Linked DNA regions of Homo sapiens. The protein of the gene in region 1 purifies or fractionates together with the protein of each later gene. This does not show direct contact. Each region holds a gene or a part of one and is shown in the gene's direction. Other genes may lie near its edges.

Region 1 (7,139 bases):
TAACCAAGTGTCCCAAAGCATGTACCTGAAGTTATATCATTTTTTATTCTAAAAAGCTATGCAGCTTATATTCTGAAAACTATTAAAACATATACCACTGTTGTTGATGTAATTTGTGACTCTTCTTAATGGAAGATGACAGGATTGTAAAAGGTATGCTAGGGGACTGATCTTCTCTGCTGGATCAGTCAGTCAGCTGTTACTAGTTGATGCTGTGCTAACATGATCCCCTCCTACTTCCATGTTGCTCTTACTACAAAGGTTATCATTTGCATTTATGTCCATGGTAGGCTGAGCTATAATATGCTGGCTTTGCAGCAGAATGAAAAGGATGAGTTGGTGTAGCCTTATAAGGAGGCTTATAAAAATTAATTATCCTCCATAAATGATGATGTTGCATCCCACTCACATTTCATTGGCTAAAGCCCTCTATGGGGCAGGGAGTTTAATCTTCCAGTAGGGTTGAGTCTGGGAGGGAAAGACACCAATATTATGACAATGCTGCAGTCTATTACATCTGCCTTTGGAAGCTCCATCTTTCTTAGACCTCAAACTGGTGTGCCCAGAGTGATTCCCTTGGCCCTGGGTTAGCTCATGAGATCATGGACAGTAGGAATTCCAGGAAGCAGGAACCCAAGAGTGCCATTTTCAACTTGTGCTGCCAACAGGGGCTTGCAGGAGTAGTGATCAATTAATCTGCCATGTTGATAGTTGACATTTGTGCTATCCTGCCCACCCCCCCCTCCCCCAACCCCCCAGGCCTTGGCCAAATAGGTAAGTAAGTAAGTTCTGATATTTAAGGAATGGACAGCAGAACACAAAAGTCCTCCATGCTGTCTTAAAAATCTCACTTTGGGGCTGGGTGCAGTGGCTCACGCCTATAATCCCAGCACTTTGGGAGGCCAAGGTGGGTGGATCACTTAAGGTTAGGAGTTAGTTTGAGACCAGGCTGGCCCATATGGTGAAACCCCATCTCTACTAAAAATACAGAAAATTAGCTGGGTGTGGTGACGCGCACCTGTAATCCCAAGCTACTTGGGAGGCTGAGGCAGGAGAACTGCTTGAACCAGGAGGTGGAGGTTGCAGTGAACTGAGATTGTGCCACTGCACTCCAGCCTGGGCAACAGAGCAAGACTCTATCTCAACAACAACAATAAAATCTCACTTTGGATAACTTCTTCACCACTCCCGTGGCCTCCACCATCACTGAAGCAAAAGGACTGTAAAATTCTCCATCCAGGGGTCCAGGAAATCTACTCTTTGGTATTCTTAATTATATTCAGACATCTGCTGGATGTCACTGTGTTCTAATTCCCCTATTCCAAACCCATTCCTTCAACATTCCCCATCTGGGATGACCACTCCAACAGCCACCCTGTTTACAAACTTGGGACTTAACCTATACATCTGCTTTACTTCCTTCTCCATCTCTATCCATACCCCAATCAAATTAATTAATCATCTTGTCCAGTCAGGCTTCTGGATATCCTGTCCCATCCCTCCCCCTCCCCCTACTGCACTGTGACTGGGACTCTTTTAATCTCTAGCAGGGACTACTTCAATGGTATCCTGGCCAGGCCAGTAACTTCTCTTTGCTTGCTTCACTTCATCCTATTCACAACATCCAAGATCTTTCTAAAAGTTCTGTAGCTGAAAATCCCTTCAAAGCTCTCCCTTGTGAAGAGGGTAATATTCAAGCTTCTTCATGTGACCTGTGAGGCTCTTGCTTGACTCTCCTGTCCCTCCTCTCCCAGCATTCCTGCCAGTGTTTCCATGTGTTGTCTGGAATCCTCTTAGTGATTCTGCGTTTCTGACAAATACCTAGCTCAGACAAGCCCTCCAGGAAGAATAATTTCCCACAGTATGAACTGCAGCATTCTTTGTTAGCACTATATTGAACTTAGAGGTTTTCCTGCCCAAAGCATGAGTCTTTGAGCAAGGAGCATATGTGACTCACGACAGCATTACCAGTGTCTAGCAAGAGTGAGCCCTTTTTTTTTTTTTTTTTTTTTTTTAAATAGAGCTTTGCTCTTGTTGCCCAGGCTGGAGTGCAATGGCGCAATCTCGGCTCACTGCAACCTCCGTCTCCCAGGTTCAAGCGATTCTCCTGCCTGAGCCTCCCAAGTAGCTGGGACCACAGGCGTGCGCCACCAGGCCCGGCTAATTTTTTGTATTTTAGTAGAGACGAGGTTTCACCATGTTGGCCAGGCTGGTCTCGAACTCCTGACCTCAGGTGATCCACCTCGGTATCCCAAAGTGTTGGGATTATAGGCATGAGCCACCGCACCTGGCCTGAGTGTTTCTTGATGGGAAGAAGAAATAATGTAAAAATGTCTTTCTCACATATTAATGTATAGATTCAACACTACTTCAAAATTCCAACCAAGATCACAAGATGATTTGGAGGGAAATGATACAAAACATTTCTAAAGATTATAGAGAACAGTACTAATGGATTTTTTACAAGAAACTAGAGTCCTGCCAGATAATAAAAACATATAAAACAAAAAGTAAAAACTTAACCCTAAATGAAACAATTCTGGACAGATTACTCAGACCCTAAAAGAATTTATCATACAGTCAAAAAGGCATCCATCATAAAGCCCCGAAAAAGGAATGAGTTATGTAATCAATGGTATTGATACAGCTTAACATCTAGAAAAGAACTTAGATCCACGTGATGCTGTAAACCAAAGTAAATTCTAGATGGAGTAAATATTTTAAAAATTAAAGTTTTTAAAAAACGAATTACAAAGGCCTGAATGGGAAATGAAAAGCCTCAAAAGGCACAAAAATACATGATTGTATAAAGTTTCTGTATGTATAAAGAAATGACAAAAAATATAGAGCCCATATAAATGTCCTCATCATAAACGGACCCAAGTCATGAACAATTCACAAAAACAGTATAACTAAAAATGGCGAGGGGTATTTAACTTCACTCCTTTTAAAAAGTTAGCAATTAACTATTACAGCTAATGTATTAGACAAAATTTGGCATATATTATTGATAATATGATCATGCAGTTAGCATCATTCATACAATGCCTGGTAAAGTTCAAAAGAGCTAATGATTAGAGTTCTTACATGTGCCAGGACCTGTTCTCAGTACATTAGAGATACACAACTGAGGTAGATGCTATATTTCACTTTACAGGGGAGGTAATAGGCCAGGAGAGGGGAAATAGCCAGAACACAGCTAGGAATAGGGAGCCCCAGGATGCTAACAGGCGAGGCAAGCAAGTCCCCAGTAAACTAGTAATTGAACATTTTTCGTTCTATTTTAATTCGATACAACACCACTTGGAAAATTAATATGGCAAAGATTCGCTAACTCCACTTCTAGTGATTTAACCCAAAGGCATGTGTATTGTGGGAAAGATAAAACAACTATAAGGAAATAAAAGCAAAAGCCTGAGGCTTAGGGATGTTAGGCTCCTCGTTATTAGTGATGAAAAGTGCTTAAGACTGAAGTGGGTGAGCCATTCAAAGCTTTGTTTCAAATGATCATGAAGGCCACCGCTCCCGGAAAACCTTTGCGCTACAAAAGAACAGGACAAAAACGAGAAAGAGAAAAAACCAACACAAACTGTAAAAGAAATTAACACTTTCAATTTTAGTATTTTCAACTATACACATTTTTAAAGGCTCGAAAGAACATTTAAATACGTTTTCACCTCTTTCCCCCAAAAAAACCTTAACTTTTTTTTCGAGACAGGGTCTCGCTCTGTCGCCCAGGATGGAGTGCAGTGGTGCGATCTCGGATCACTGCAACCTTCACTTCTCGGGTTCAAGCGATTCTCCTGCCTCAGCATCCCGAGGAGCTGGGATTACAGGCACCTTACAGGCCTCCCAGAGTGCTTGGGACTGCAGGTGAGAGCCACCGCGCCCGGCCTCCTTCACTTTCATTTGAACTCTCTTTACCAGGAACTGTGTTAAGTGCCCTACCTTTCTTCTTTATCAAAACGACCCTATGGTGCACTGTTATCCTATTTTACCGACGAGAAAACTTCGGCCAGCGCAGCAGCTAGGGCTCAGTCCCGAAGCCTCGCGCTCTCAGTCCGAGAGCAACCCGCGGGCCGTCTCCTAGGAAACCGGGCTCGCCACACCCCTTGGTCGAACCCCACTTCCGCTCCTGCGCGCTGAGGCTCCGGCGGACCTCTGGTGGACATGGCTGCTTCCCGCTTACCCCCAGCGACGCTAACGTTAAAGCAGGTACCGGCGGTTCTCTGCCTTCCAAAGCAGCTTACCTGGGTCTGAGCTGGATTCTCCATCTGTCCCTATCCCCAACGGGGCGGGTTCCGGGGTCCTGATGCGGCGTGCGCGCCCTCTGAGATTGGCCCGATGCCTGCGGGGCGGTGCTTCGCTCCGCGGGGCCTGACGGGAGGCACTGGCTGCTTCCTTGGTTTGGTGCGATCGCGTGAGACAGCGTCAGGCGCTTGATTTCCCTGAGTCCCGGTGCCTCAGCTGCCCAGTGCCCACGGTAAAAGTCTATTGCACTGAGCTGTGGCAAACAGCAAATGAGATTACCAAAGATTTGAACAACTGTTAATTTAGAAAAAGTGCTGTCGTTGTAATAACAACTTCTAGGAGACCGGCAGCCCTTTTCAGCCCGGTAGGCAGCTCCTGATTTTTTAATGGTTCTTAGGTTTGACAGAGCAGTAAGCAAAAAGATCAGATGAACCTCGTGATGCTTTCTTTAAAACATCTTTTTGAGACAGGGCCTCACTCTCGCCCAGGCTGAGTGCAGTAGCGCAATGAAGGCTTACCTCAGCTTAGACCTCCTGGGCTCAAGTGATCCTCCCATCTTGGCCTCCCAAAGTGCTGGGATTACAGGCCTGAGCCACTGCATCTGGCCAAAAAAAGAAAAAAAAAAGTTTTTCTTTGCCTTTTTCAAAATTGACCAACGAGAAGTACTCTGGTTACAGCTTGGTTTGCTGAAGTAGAACTTTCCAGGCTGGCGATTGTGCAGTAGTAATTGCTATTTACTCCTCCCTTTTACAGTTCGTAAGAAGGCAACAAGTTCTTCTCCTCTACAGAAGGATTTTGCAAACAATTCGGCAAGTTCCAAATGATTCTGATCGCAAATACCTGAAAGATTGGGCAAGAGAAGAATTCAGAAGAAACAAAAGTGCCACCGAAGAGGTGAGAACAAAATCATGGTGAGGACAGATCCTAACCCTTTTTATTGATCAGTGAATTTTTTTTTTTAAGTTTAGCAGACATCTTGGAATATAGTGCCACTGAGCTGGTATATCTTGATCATTGCTTGTAATGTTACCGATTTTAAATTATTATTTTAAAATTTAGTATTTTAAAATATGTAGATAAAAGAGTATCTACACTCTTCAGCATCATCACTTGACTTTTATGTTGTACATTTTATATGTATGTATGTGGAACTCTTTTAGCTTTTCTAAAAGGCAGCAGTTCCAATAGGTAGTATTGGTTCTTGATTTTAACAGATAAAATGGTATAGCTATACCTTGTTTAACCAGGTAAAACTATAACCAGATTTCACTTTATTCTACAGGATACAATCCGGATGATGATTACTCAAGGCAATATGCAGCTCAAGGAGTTAGAAAAAACACTTGCTTTAGCAAAATCTTAACTATAGCATTATTCTGAAGGATTTTCAAAGTCTCCATGTGTTTTGTTGCATTTAGGATTAACAATGGACAACACAAAGCCCAGTCTTACTATTTATATGTACAGTATTTGGTGATAGAGAGCAAAGGAAAAACACATCAGAACAGTTGCCTTAACACTGAAAAACATACCCTGCATTTTGAAAATGTTTATGGATGTCTCAGCAGTTCTTAAAAGAAGAAAAAAACCACTAACAAATGGCCAGTAGATGCTGGACACAATCATTAGGGAAGTGTAAATCAAAACTACTATGAGGTCGGGTGTAGTGGCTCATGCTTGTAATCCCAGTACTTTAGGAGGCTGTGGTAGGTGGATCACTTGAGGTCAGGAGTTCAAGACCAGCCTGGCCAGCATGGTGAAACCTCATCTCTACTAAAAATACAAAAATTAGCTTGGTGTGGTGGTGCATTGCCTGTAGTCCCAGCTACTTGGGAGGCTGAGGCAGGAGAATCACTTGAACCCAGGAAGTGGAGGTTGCAGTGAGCTGAGGTCGTGCCACTGCACTTCAGCCTGGGTGACAGAGTGAGACAGTCTCTAAAAAAAAAAAAAAAAAACAACCCTGAGATTCACATTCACTAGAATGGCTGTAATTAAAAAGAGAAATAATAATAAGTCTTGGTGAAGATGTACAGAAATTACAGAACCCTCATACATTGCTGGTGGGAATGTAAAATGGTGTAGCCACTTCAGAAAACAGACGGTCAGTTCCTCAAAAGATGAAACAGCTGCTGTATGAGTTAGCACTTCTACCCCATGCCCATAGCCATTATTTGGCACTAAAAAGAAACGAAGGACTTATATATACTAAACATGGATAAACCTTGAAAACGTTAAGTGAAAGAAGCCGGTCACAAAAGATCACATGATGATTCCATTCATACGAAATGTCCAGAATAGGCAGAAAGATTAGTGGTTGCCTAGGCTGGCTGTAGATGGAATGGAGTAACTGCTAATGGGTGTAGGGTTCCTTTTCAGGGTGATGAAAATATCCTACAGTTAGCTTGTGGTGTAGGCTGCACAACTCTTGAATATATTCAAATCCACTGAACTGTACATTTTAAATGTAAGGTATGAATTGTATCTCAATAAAGCTGTTATTAAAAAACTCTTGAGGTGTAGGACTGAAAGTATACTGACACCAGGAGATACCCTGGAACTTTCTCGAAAAATCCTGCATTATCCCTGAGGGTTGTTCAGGTACGTTCTTCAGATGTGTCATAGTTTGATAGAGAACTCATCAAAAAGATCACCACTGGGAATCTAGATCTTTGTTGAAAAGGGAAGAGAAAGAGAAGCTTAATGAGCACATTGAAGCACTTACCAGAAAGAAGAGGGAAGACTTCTGGATGAAACCTCTGTGAGTACCTTAACATTCACATGGAAGTAGTAAAAATAAGATTCTGGGTGCAGTTCTCCAATGACAGGAAAAAAAACAAAGAGAATTTGAAGAATACGTCAGAGACAAATACATTACAACCAAAATTGAC
Region 2 (5,190 bases), on another chromosome or scaffold:
AAAACAAGAATATATTAGCAAACATTCTTATTAGTTTATGTAAGTCATGGTAGTATAAGAACATGGTTGAGACTAGGTGTGGTGGCTCACACCTGTAATCCCAGCACTTTGGGAGGCCGAGGTGGGTGGATCACGAGGTCGGGAGTTCAAGACCAGCCTGGCCAAGATGGTGAAAACCCGTCTCTACTAAAAATACAAAAATTAGCTGGGCGTGATTATGGGCACCTGTAATCTCAGCTACTCGGTAGGCTGAGGCAGAGAATTGCTTGAACCTGGGAGGAAGAGGTTGCAGTGAGCCGAGATCTGCACTACTGCACTCCAGCCTGGGCAACAGAACAATACTCTGTCACAAAATAAAATAAAATAAAATAAAATAAAATAACATGTTTGCAGGAATGAGATTGTATAAAAGGGCTCGTGAAAAGCAACGGTTCCCTCCCGTCCCCATCCCTGTCCCCGTCCCTGTCCCTGTCCCCGTCCCTGTCCCTGTCCCTGCTCTCCCAGAGATAAGTGGTTTTACTTGTTCCTTTTTGAAGTTAGGTAGATTCTGTGGTCCACATTTCCCATATTACTCACCTGAAAGTAATAATACTATTATTATTATTTTGTTTTTGGTAGAGATGGGGTCTTGCTATGTTGCCCAGACTGGTCTCGAACTCCTGGCCTCAAGCAATCCCCTCACCTTGGTCTCCCAAAGTGCTGGGATTACAGGTGTGATCACTGCTCCTGGCCCACTCTTAATATGATTATTACCCAGAATTAAGAGTCCCAAGCTCTTATCCTTCATTCATTCTCTCACTGGCCTTGGGCATGTAGCAGTGAGCAAGAGCACACACAGTCTGTGCCCTCGTGGTGAAGGCAAAAGACCTTAATCCAGAGAAGCACGTTCATCCCTGAGAAATTCCAGCCGCAGAAGTGCTGCAGGAGAGGGACTGAAGGATTTGACTCAGCGAGGCTGGGGATGGCAGCCCAAAGCAGCGAGGCCTGAGCTGCGATCAGAAGGAGAGGAGGGGCAATAACCAGCTGAGGGATAGGAGGTGGCATGTGCAGAGGCCCTGTGGTGGGGAGGGTGCGTGTGTGTGGATGTGCAGAGGGGGCTGGACGAAGGTCAGTGTGGCTCACGCTGTCCTGCTCCTTACCTCTGAGTTCCCTGAAAGCATCCTGTGCCTTCTGCTTGCTCGCTGCCGTGGCTGTGGACGGAGCGGGGAGCAGGCGTGGAGGCGGGGGCAGGACAGCTTGAATGAGAAGTGCCATCATATAGACCTCAGTGGGACTGGGTCTTCAGCTTCTGGACTTGGGGATCCCTTGTGCGTGGCTGGGGTCACATGGCCTGAGTTTCTGCAGGGCACTGCCTCGGGGGCAGGAGGGTTTGGGCTTGGGGAGGGTGGGCTCGCCCCCGGCAGCTGCCCATGGCGTGCCGTCCTTCCCTGTGCCCAGGTGAAGAAGATGGGCGGGCTTGGGCTTCTGGCCATGGACGTGCCCGAGGAGCTTGGCGGTGCTGGCCTCGATTACCTGGCCTACGCCATCGCCATGGAGGAGATCAGCCGTGGCTGCGCCTCCACCGGAGTCATCATGAGTGTCAACAACGTGAGCCCCCTCCCAGGCCCCTGGGACACACGGGTGGAGGGAGGCTCCCGTGAGCGGGCAGGCTCTGGCCTCGGCTCCCAGCCCTGATCTCTCTGGAGACGTCACAGGCCTTGGTCCTACTGGGTAGGCCCTGGACAGAACAGGCCCTGAGGTGCAGCCCGCAGGTGGGCAGGATGCGCCTGGGCCTGGGGCCTCCGACCGCTCCCCGCTGTCCTCCTAGTCTCTCTACCTGGGGCCCATCTTGAAGTTTGGCTCCAAGGAGCAGAAGCAGGCGTGGGTCACGCCTTTCACCAGTGGTGACAAAATTGGCTGCTTTGCCCTCAGCGAACCAGGTACCTGCCCTGTCCCCTCACCTGTCCTTAGGGTGACAGGCCCAGAGGGGAGGAGAGGAAGGTGCTAGGCCAACTGCCCACTGCTTCGGAGGCCAGAGGGGAGGCTCCCCGTGTGGTTGGTAGGGTGAGCGCTCTTGCCACCGCGGCGCTGGGAGGAAGATTGCCTTCGGGGTCCCCTGGTTTAAGACGCCAGCTCCTGCACACCCCCCTCGCCCTCTGGTCCCATCACTGAGAGCTTTGGGACCCTCATCTTTGGAGCCCGAGTCATAGGGTTTCGTGTCTGCCAGCAGGGGTGTGGAGGGAGTGAGGCTGGTGCCCTTAGGTTGTGTGGGGTGGGGCGTGCGCTGAGCCCTGGGTCTGTGTGGGCAGGGAACGGCAGTGATGCAGGAGCTGCGTCCACCACCGCCCGGGCCGAGGGCGACTCATGGGTTCTGAATGGAACCAAAGCCTGGATCACCAATGCCTGGGAGGCTTCGGCTGCCGTGGTCTTTGCCAGCACGGACAGAGCCCTGCAAAACAAGGTGGGCCCACCCAGAGAGGGGTTCAGCCGGATCCTGGGCTGCTGTCATTTCTGTTTCTAGGGCCTTCTCTCCTTGGCCCGACTGGACCTATTTTTGCTCTGGGGCAAGTGGGCTGTCCCTGTCCCTCCTCAGCTGCCACTGAAGCCTGCACCTTCCCCAGAAGCCGGCAGAGGGTGTCAAGGCCTGAGCTTCTGAGGGAGGTGGGGAGGGGACCGGGTTGGTGTTGGGTGTGCTGGTGTGAGGGTGTGGCTGAGGGGCAGCTCTGAGAAAACCACCCGCCTCTCCTTTCAGGGCATCAGTGCCTTCCTGGTCCCCATGCCAACGCCTGGGCTCACGTTGGGGAAGAAAGAAGACAAGCTGGGCATCCGGGGCTCATCCACGGCCAACCTCATCTTTGAGGACTGTCGCATCCCCAAGGACAGCATCCTGGGGGAGCCAGGGATGGGCTTCAAGATAGCCATGGTGAGCCCGGCAGTGGGGGTGGCACCTTGAGGCCAGGCCCGCGCCCCGGCTGGCGGGCCACTGACCAGGGCGGTCCCCACAGCAAACCCTGGACATGGGCCGCATCGGCATCGCCTCCCAGGCCCTGGGCATTGCCCAGACCGCCCTCGATTGTGCTGTGAACTACGCTGAGAATCGCATGGCCTTCGGGGCGCCCCTCACCAAGCTCCAGGTCATCCAGGTAATGGTGGCAGCTTTAGGAGCTGGGCCTAGAGGCTGGACAGCGGGCGGAGAGTGTGGCCTCCTGACTGCTCTCCGTCCTCCTCCCCCTCCCTTCTGTCCCCTGGAGGGGCAGCTGCTGACCTGTGGTGTGGGGTGGGGCTATTGCAGTTCAAGTTGGCAGACATGGCCCTGGCCCTGGAGAGTGCCCGGCTGCTGACCTGGCGCGCTGCCATGCTGAAGGATAACAAGAAGCCTTTCATCAAGGTGCCCACAGGGGTCCCCGAGCCATGGCCCAGAATGTGGTGGGCCCAGGGACGGGGAGAGGTTGGGGCGGGTCTCTGCTCCTTGGCCCCGTGGGTCAGAGGTGTGGGCCTGGGGTTTACAGCCCCATGGGGAGGCTCCACAGGCCTCCCCTGCTGAGGGAGTGGGGGAGCAGGGGATGGAGGGGTCCCCTCAAGGGAAGGCTCTGACTGTACCCCCATGTTTAGGAGGCAGCCATGGCCAAGCTGGCCGCCTCGGAGGCCGCGACCGCCATCAGCCACCAGGTGAGTGTCCACAGTGAGCTCTGAGGGGGCCAGCTGCCCCTTCTCCAGCTTTCCCCACGCCGGGGTCTTCTCCCTCCTGAGCCACTGTTCTCATCTCAGGCCATCCAGATCCTGGGCGGCATGGGCTACGTGACAGAGATGCCGGCAGAGCGGCACTACCGCGACGCCCGCATCACTGAGATCTACGAGGGCACCAGCGAAATCCAGCGGCTGGTGATCGCCGGGCATCTGCTCAGGAGCTACCGGAGCTGAGCCCGCGGCGGACTGCCCCAGGACTGCGGGAAGGCGCGGGAGCCAGGGGCCTCCACCCCAACCCCGGCTCAGAGACTGGGCGGCCCGGCGGGGGCTCCCTGGGGACCCCAGATGGGCTCAGTGCTGCCACCCAGATCAGATCACATGGGAATGAGGCCCTCCGACCATTGGCAGCTCCGCCTCTGGGCCTTTCCGCCTCCTCACCACTGTGCCTCAAGTTCCTCATCTAAGTGGCCCTGGCCTCCTGGGGGCGGGGTTGTGGGGGGGCTGAGCGACACTCAGGGACACCTCAGTTGTCCTCCCGCGGGCCCTGGTGCCCTGGCATGAAGGCCCAGTGCGACAGGCCCTTGGTGGGGTCTGTCTTTTCCTTGAGGTCAGAGGTCAGGAGCAGGGCTGGGGTCAGGATGACGAGGCCTGGGGTCCTGGTGTTGGGCAGGTGGTGGGGCTGGGCCATGGAGCTGGCCCAGAGGCCCCTCAGCCCTTTGTAAAGTCTGATGAAGGCAGGGGTGGTGATTCATGCTGTGTGACTGACTGTGGGTAATAAACACACCTGTCCCCCAGTCTGTGTCCTCGCCCTCTCCTGGGTGCTCCGGGGAGGGATGGTGGTCTCTGCACAGAGTCCTGCTCTCTGACAGTCTCACCCTGTGAGTGTTGGGGGTCTTGGGGAGGGGCCTGGCCACCTGGGAGGTTCCTGAGTTCCGGCAGAGGCCAGATTGGCCAAGGAGGCAGTTCAGGAATAGGAACTGGGTCCTGCAGGCCTCAGGGAGTGGCCCCTGGGGAGGGAGGGTGGGCCAGGCAGGGCCAGTGGGCTAGAAGGGGTTCTCTACGCAGGACCAGCCTCCAGGCAGGAGGAAGGAAGGCCCCAGATTGCCAGAGTCGGGGAGCAAAGCTGTGGAGGCCTCGAGCCCCAGGTGGGAGAACACAGAACCTCGAGAAGCAGCCATTGTGCTCACTAGCGCGCTCGGGGGCGGCCCTGGCCAGCCAGTGCGGGGGCTTGCCCTGGTCCTGGTGCCTGCAGGGCTTTCTCTGGGCAAAGGTGCCCCTGAAGCCAAGGTCCAAGCTCTTAACCCTCTGGGCCAGTGTCGATCTCAGCAGCTGGAAGAGAAAACAGTGAGCAAAGAAAGATTTCAAAGGAGGTGGGGACAGCCCTCCGCCGGGCAGGCAGGGCAGAGAGTCAAACTGGCATTGCTGGGAGGTCTCTGGAGGGAAGCGGGAGGGAGACGGTGACTTTAGGAGCTGTCATCAAAGGGGCGCCCAGGGACCCTGAGCCCCTGTTGGGGATGGATTTTT

What was found.
Region 2: the proteins of LYRM2 (region 1) and ACADS purify together in Homo sapiens (affinity purification with mass spectrometry; 2 studies listed by BioGRID and IntAct, with this or other methods). This does not show direct contact.

Annotation. Positions count from the first base shown.
Region 1 is NC_000006.12:89,635,748-89,642,886, reverse strand, and holds the start of LYRM2 (LYR motif-containing protein 2), read left to right. Parts: upstream 1-4,139; 5' UTR 4,140-4,170; coding exon 4,171-4,215; intron 4,216-4,250; exon of another isoform or gene 4,251-4,355; intron 4,356-4,401; exon of another isoform or gene 4,402-4,615; intron 4,616-5,004; coding exon 5,005-5,145; exon of another isoform or gene 5,146-5,162; intron 5,163-5,533; coding exon 5,534-5,614; 3' UTR 5,615-7,139. UniProt on the Homo sapiens protein: Involved in efficient integration of the N-module into mitochondrial respiratory chain complex I.
Region 2 is NC_000012.12:120,735,549-120,740,738, forward strand, and holds the end of ACADS (short-chain specific acyl-CoA dehydrogenase, mitochondrial isoform 1 precursor), read left to right. Parts: intron 1-1,437; coding exon 1,438-1,587; intron 1,588-1,807; coding exon 1,808-1,919; intron 1,920-2,288; coding exon 2,289-2,440; intron 2,441-2,500; coding exon of another isoform or gene 2,501-2,640; intron 2,641-2,731; coding exon 2,732-2,902; intron 2,903-2,984; coding exon 2,985-3,122; intron 3,123-3,271; coding exon 3,272-3,367; intron 3,368-3,591; coding exon 3,592-3,648; intron 3,649-3,747; coding exon 3,748-3,900; 3' UTR 3,901-4,460; downstream 4,461-5,190. UniProt on the Homo sapiens protein: Short-chain specific acyl-CoA dehydrogenase is one of the acyl-CoA dehydrogenases that catalyze the first step of mitochondrial fatty acid beta-oxidation, an aerobic process breaking down fatty acids into acetyl-CoA and allowing the production of energy from fats.